2 separate regions of the Homo sapiens genome follow, and region 1 is reported to be linked to region 2. The links are microRNA targets in miRTarBase. Many come from high-throughput screens and were not tested one by one. Region 2 holds a microRNA gene; the other region holds the end of a gene's coding sequence.

Evidence for each region. Region 2 holds the annotated microRNA hsa-miR-4306 (UGGAGAGAAAGGCAGUA, at 980-996, opposite strand). A microRNA usually pairs through its seed, bases 2 to 8, with sites in the 3' UTR of a target mRNA and lowers its output. Matches are read on the target gene's strand: a 7mer-m8 pairs with bases 2 to 8, a 7mer-A1 pairs with bases 2 to 7 and ends in A, and an 8mer does both.
Region 1: miRTarBase lists ZFYVE27 as a target of hsa-miR-4306. Seed matches in the 3' UTR shown: 8mer at 769-776 and 7mer-m8 at 1,713-1,719.

The regions. Positions count from the first base shown.
Region 1 is chr10:97,758,673-97,762,074 of GRCh38, forward strand. It overlaps ZFYVE27 (zinc finger FYVE-type containing 27), which reads left to right. Exons shown (of 13, transcript NM_001385875.1): 13 at 564-2,223. The coding sequence ends at 628. Among named protein-coding and RNA genes, the nearest start is that of SFRP5, 12 kb to the right of the region's middle. RefSeq lists a silencer at 846-895 and an enhancer at 1,368-1,867.
Region 2 is chr13:99,640,717-99,644,118 of GRCh38, reverse strand. MIR4306 (microRNA 4306) reads right to left here and starts at 1,060; the gene lies at 970-1,060. All of the region lies in intron 1 of CLYBL (citramalyl-CoA lyase), which reads right to left.

The sequences.
Region 1 (3,402 bases), not on the chromosome of region 2:
TTTGGAAATTATTATACAGAGGACGAAGGAAGAGAAAAATAACCCTGTAATTTTACCACCCAGAGGTAACCACTGTTAAAACATTTTGGGAAATTTCACTGTGATATTTTACTTATTCTGTTTTTTTGAGACAGAGTCTCGCTCTGTCGCCCAGCCTGGAGTGCAGTGGCGCCATCTCGGCTCACTGCAACCTCCGCCTCTTGGGTTCAAACAATTCTTGTGCTTCAGCCTCCTGAGTAGCTGGGATTACAGGCGTGCATCACCATGCCTGGCTAATTTTTGTATTTAATATTTTATTTAAAAATTTTTGAAGGTGTTCTGTTGGTGCCACAATAATGTCTAATTCATAGCACAGGAGTGGCCTGCTGTTGGCATCATCACCCCCAGGATCCCCAGTTCCCATGGAAAGAAGAATCTCTGCGGGCAGGCTAGCAAGCTGGGCAGGGAGGGTGTGGGCTGGGTGGGGGGTCTGTGTGGGGCATTTGGGAGGGTGCTTCTAGTAGTTGGGGCCATGAACCAAAGGGCGCAAGGAAATGTCTCACCAAGTTCTTCCTCCTTTTCAGCCCCTGAAGCCCAGAGGGAGACTGTGTTTGTGTGTGCCTCGTGTAACCAGACCTTGAGCAAGTGAGAAGAGAGGCCAGGGTCCAACCAGGCACCCGTCCTTGGGACCAGCAGTAGACCCCCCACTCTCCCCACCCCTGGCCCACTGTGGTGTGTGCTGGGCAAATGTGGCCTGAATGCTAGGTAGGCTTCCCCTTCCTTCCTCACTCTCTCCAGCTGGATTCTGGAGCTGTTCTCCATCCATGAGAGTGGCTGGCAATGGCTGCTCTCAATCCCTTGAGGGAGAAGAGCCCCTGGAGGGCCTGGCATGTTTGTCCTGCTCTGCCTGGGACTGAGCGAGTGGACTTAGGGCTGGGCAGGCAGTAGCCACCAGAGGGCAGCAGCGAACTAGGCCAGGCCTGACTGGGGTCTGAAGATCAGGGTCAGTGTGGCTGTGCCTGGGAATTCCAGACCTGAGGTTGGGAAAAGAGGTTTTTCTCCTGCAGGGTACTGGGCCAGGCCCTCAGCCTCAGAGAGCCTGCAGAAGGGCTTGGGAGTGCCACACCCCATCTCTGCTGATTGAATGTCCCTCCAGGCACCAGGATCTCATCATTTCCCCATCAGAGGGTGTGGCCAGGCCTAACAAGACCATGGGTGCTTCTAGAAACAGGGTTGAAGTTCCCAGATTCCCTGAGAGGAGAATGTGTATAGGAGGGTTTGGCTGAGTCCTTCAGCGTTAAGTGGAGGAAAGCTTGGGGAAGCCCCAATAGCTGGACAGACCTCGGCCTCCCCTCGAAGACACCTCAATTCACAGACTCTCAGCCCACACAATGCCCCAGTGTCCCCAGCTCCGCTGGAGCAGCTGCAGGGCACTTGGATCACAACTTCTGCACCCTCTGTCCAGAGTCTAGGGCAGTCCTCCACTGGCCCAGCACTCCAGTTTCCTTTCCCTGCCTCTTGTCCAATGGAGTGGGAGGCCAGGTGAGTGGAGCAGAGGTCCTGAAGCCCTTGACCCCTGGGGGCCTGGGTAGTGTAGGATCTCGCTGGGCTGGGTCCTGGATTCCAGGGCTATTCCCTGGAGGACAGTCTCAGTTATGGGATAAGGCCCCCTGGGGGTCTCCATTTCTTTCCAACAGTTTCATGTTCACTACTGGACTCTTACGGGCTCAGTATCTCTCCCTTAGCCATGAGCTGGCTCAGGCATCCCTTCCCTTCCCTGGAGCTGCCCTGCCTTTCTCAAGTATTTATTTATTTATTGCATGGTTCCTGGGAACATGTGGCACAAGTAATGGGATGAGGAGGAATTGGGGGTGGGGGTCTTCTACCTAGGACTCTTCCCTGGAGTCATGGGCTGCCTGGGACCCAGGACCCATGAGGGGGCTGAGAGGTTTCTACACTCGAGGAGCAGGGGTCCAGAGAGGCAGGCTGGGGAGGCAAGGGACCCATCCTAGGCCCGCTTTCTTGCCGAGCCAAGCAGCTTAGCTGGGGCTGTGCAGCCAGGGGCTTACCCAGGCCAGTGGAGGTGCCACAGCCCTGGGGAGCCAGACAGGCTTTGGTATCGTATCGCCTCTGTGTCCTTTTAAGAGAGGAGAGTTCAGTACCCCGTGCTTTCTTTACACTGGAGAGGAACTAAAAGGATCTCTGTGTCTATGGAGAATTGTCAATAAAAAGGCCTCAAGCTTCTTGTTTTTGTCATGTCTTTGTGTTGGCATTTTCCCTGAGGCTGGAAGACCAGATCTCTCTGGCACTGCTGGAGTTTTGCAGGCCTGGGCAATTCCTGCAGGACCAGGCTGAGGGGCGGGCCTTTGGGGCACCATGGTGGCAGGGGCGTGGGGGCTGCAGCCTGGTCTGGGTATGAGCTGGGGGCCAAGAGGAGGAAAGCTGTGCCTTGCACGCAGGAGAGGCTCAGCAAATGCTTGTCGGATTGACTTGAGGCCCAGTCTTGTGACCCAATTGTGAGGGCCCAGCACTGGGGGTTGGGGTTGGGACTAGAACTTGGTAAACCCCAAACAATGCAGGCTTTACAACGGAAAGATTTTAACTAATCCCTCTGAGAAAGCCAGAAAGGGTCAGCCTTCAGGGAGGCTGAGAGCAGCAGGAAAGAGGATTGGACATGAGATGGGAAGTGCAAGCCATGCCCTGAGCTGGGGCAGGTGGGTGGTGGGTGGCTGGGTGCTGGGCACTGGTGAGGGCTTTGCGTGCAGTATCTCATTTATTGCTCACAGCAACTCTGAGGTAGGCACTGTTCCCCTGAAGTAGGAGCAGAGTCCCTGCAGCAGTAGAGGGTGGTGCCTGGCGCCTGCTGTGGCCCACCTCCATGCTTGGACCCCTTTACCATCTGTTGGAGCGGTGCTGGGGCCCATTGGCATAGGGATGCTGCCCCCAGGCTCACTGTGCTTTCCTCCTCTGGAAAGTGCACCTGATGGTGATGCATAGCTTGTGCGGGTGCTGTGAGAGAAATGAGAGAGTCGACGGGAGGCATGGGGCCCGGTGCCTGGCATGCTGGACACGCTGGCTCCTGTCATCCTGGCCACCTTCAGAGGACAAACAGCTCTGTCCTGGGTGGCTTAGAACAGTGATTTATTTTTTTTAAACCAGAGTGTAATTTTAGATGATTCTTCAGAGAAGAGTATCAGAGAGGCACAAGTGTAGTTTGGAAAAGCAGTCAATGCATTTTATTTTTGGAAAATGAAAATGCCAAATGTTGGTGAAATCTCAACCATAACAGCAGTAACTTGAAGTCTGTGCCTGCAGGCATGGATTACAGAGATGGGAGAAGCATGAGTTTCCATCCTTGGGTAACAGCCTCCGAGAAGGGGATGCTAGAGGGCCTTGTCCCCTTGAGGTGCCCCTGAGAGTAGG
Region 2 (3,402 bases):
CATACATACACCACATATAAAAAACCAAAAGTTTCATAAGACAAAATGTGTGATGGGCTCAGAATTGAATATTTCCTATTATGTTACAGTTCTTTTTTTTTTTTTTTTTTTTTTGAGACAGAGTCTTGTTCTGTCGCCCAGGCTGGAGTGCAATGGCGCAGTCTGGATTCACTGCAACCTCCGCCTCCTGGGTTCAAGCGATTCTCCTGCCTCAGCCTCCCGAAAAGTTGGGATTACAGGCGCCGCCACCACTCCCAGTTAATTTTTGTATTTTTAGTGGAGACGGGGTTTCACCATGTTGGTCAGGCTGGTCTGCAACTCCTGACCTCATGCTCCACCTGCCTCAGCCTCCCAAAGTGCTGGGATTACAGGCGTGAGCCACTGCGCCGGGCCTATGGTTCATTTTTTAAAACGCTCATTGTGACCTAATAAATTAACTTCCCAGATGACTCATGGGTTTGGACCCACAACATAAAACACCACTGCCCCAAACAATCTGAACCGAGGCGCACAGAATAGTAAGTGGTAGCTACTGACATTGAGTCTCACAACTTCCTCCACTGGACATTGAAATTATAATTATAAACAGAAATATAAAATTGAGACAATTTCTTGAAAATGTTTCAGAAATGCATATGCCCCTTGGTTTCAGGCTTCTACCTGTTTTAGCTCTTCTTTTTCTAACTGGTTGAAAATGCAGGTATTGGCAGAAAACCTGAGGATAATTACAGACCCTAGATGACAAAGACAGAGATGGCAAATCATGCTGATGAAAAGCCTGAAGATCTGTAAATCAGAAAAACAAAATTCCTGGTTATTCAGAATATACAGACATCATTCCAATCAAAACTTGGCCTTTGGCACCGGAGCAGTGAGGCAAACTGGCTGGTCATGAGAACAGGCATTACTTCTGGCCACTCCAGAGGCAGGTGGAAGCAGAGCGTCCAAGCCTTCAAGCCCCTTGGTCTTGGTACAGACCTACTGCCTTTCTCTCCAGAGGACAGTCAAAAGATTCTGGGTTAGGGATGCCTCTGGAGACTCTAAGGACACTAAGCAGCTTAAAAGGGCTTCTATGAGCCCATGAGTAAAGTCCTCATGCAGGCCTCACCCAGCAAGCAGTTGAGCTCAGTGTATTAGAAATGAGAGCAGCCTGCGCAACATAGTAAGACCTTGGCTCTACAAAAAATAAAAAATTAGCCAGGCGTGGTGGTGTATGCCTGTAGCTGTAGCTAGTTGGGAGGCTGAGGTGGGAGGATGGTTTGAGCCTGGGAGGTTAAGGCTGCAGTGAGCCAAGATTGCACTACTGCACTCCAGCCTGAGCAACAGGAAAAAAAAGGAAAGAAAATAAAAGAGCAACGGAGGAAGGGAGGGAGGGAGGGAAGCAGGCAGGCAGGAAGGAGAGGCTGGGCATGGTGGCTCATGCCTGTAACCCCAGCACTTGGGAAGAATGAGGCAGAAGGATCACCTGAACCCAGGAGTTTGAGACCAGCCTGGACAACATGGGGAGACCTCATCTCTACAAAAATAAATTAAAAAATGAGCCAGGCCAGGTGGCACACACCTGAAGTCTTAGCTACTCGGGAAGCTGAGGTGGGAGGATTGCTTGAGCCTGGGAGCTGTGACCTGCAGTGAGCTGTGATCGTGCCACTGCACTCCAGCCTGGGCAACAGGGCAAGATCCTGTCTCAATAATAATAATAATAATAACAATAATCATAAAAAATAGAAATGAGCCAATACTCTGATTTTCACCCCAAGATGGATTCAAGCAACATTCCCAAGACCACCGCCAGCCCTCCTACAACCAGCTTTGGCTGATGGTGACTGAATATGCTCGGTGCCCAGGGTCACCCTCACTAGAGGCACGCCTCAGCCAGAGCACAGCACTGAAGAGTCAGCATGCACAGGGCTGAGGCCACCGCCCCCTGCAATGAGAATGGGCTCCCCAGCCAAATCTACCCACAGCTGGGGTCATAAGATGAGAATCCTTCCCAGCAATCCCTCAGATTCCTCTTTCCTTGTGTCTGAGAGCCTGGTACCCTCACAAGTGTTCTTCCCCAGGGTGTCTGTCCTCCTTGAGACATGTCCTATGGGTTTTCATCCCCATATGTGTTTTCTGCATTGTCATATTTTAAATCCCATTCAAGAGACTGCAGAACATTATTTCCAAATTTAATTTCATATGGTTTGAATGACATTTCCAAAAGGAAAATGCACCAATCTCAGAAATGTTTTACTCCACTGATTCATTCTTAACTTTCCATTTCTGTACCTTCTTTCCTTCTTGTGTTGGACTATTTTTTTTTTAAAGATGGAGTCTCGCTCTGTCACCCAGGCTGGAGTGCAGTGGTGCGATCTCAGCTCACTGCAAGCTCCACCTCCCGGGTTCACGCCATTCTCCTGCCTCAGCCTCCCAAGTAGCTGGGACTACAGGTGCACGCTGCCATGCCTGGCTAATTTTTTTTTTTTTTGTATTTTTAGTAGAGATGGGGTTTCACCGTGCTAGCCAGGATGGTCTTGATCTCCTGACCTCATGATCCGCCCACCTTGGCTTCCCAAAAGTGCTGAGATTACAGGTGCCTGCCACCGTGCCCGGCTAATTTTCTGTACTTCTAGTAGAGACGGGGTTTCACTGTGTTAGCCAGGATGGTCTTGATCTCCTGACCTCGTGATCCACCCACCTCGGCCTCCCAAAGTGCTGGGATTACAGGCGTGAGCCACTGCACCTGGCCGTGTTGTACTATTTTTAAGAAATAAAGTGATTTTTTTGGTATAATAAATAATGGGAAGATGCACAATGTCAATACCAAACTTAAATAGCTTTGATTCATTTGGGTTCCCACCTTCATCCACTTATAATTCATTTTAACCTATAGGTTATAAATGATTAATTACTCATATTTTAAAATCATCAAAAAACTTATATCATTGAGGTTGTATCAACTACAAACAATGTATGACTGTAGGCTTGCACTGGTGATCTGAGAAAAGGCTCCCAGCAGGACTGAAGGCAAGAATATTCAGAGAACGCTCAATAGAAAACTGTTACATACTTTTCAAATTTTCATTTGGTGATATGATTCATAAAACCAACTAATGAGAATTCTATATTAGAAAAACAATATATGTAAACCAAAGTAAAACTAGCTACTAATTTTTTTGTTAAGTCCTCCCATAAAGGGAATGTTTTCCAGAAATGTGTTAGCAGGAGTAGCTTGGATCTGCACTGTCCACCATATATTCGTATATATCCACGTGTGCATTTAGGTGCCTAGGTCTATATCTGGGTACATGCATACAAATTTCCTGAGCAGTCAAAATCCTATTGGTCGTAAGACAAAAGAGCAGGGGCACTGCCCATGAAGTTATCAGATCCAGGCCTTCAGTTTCTAATTGAACACTT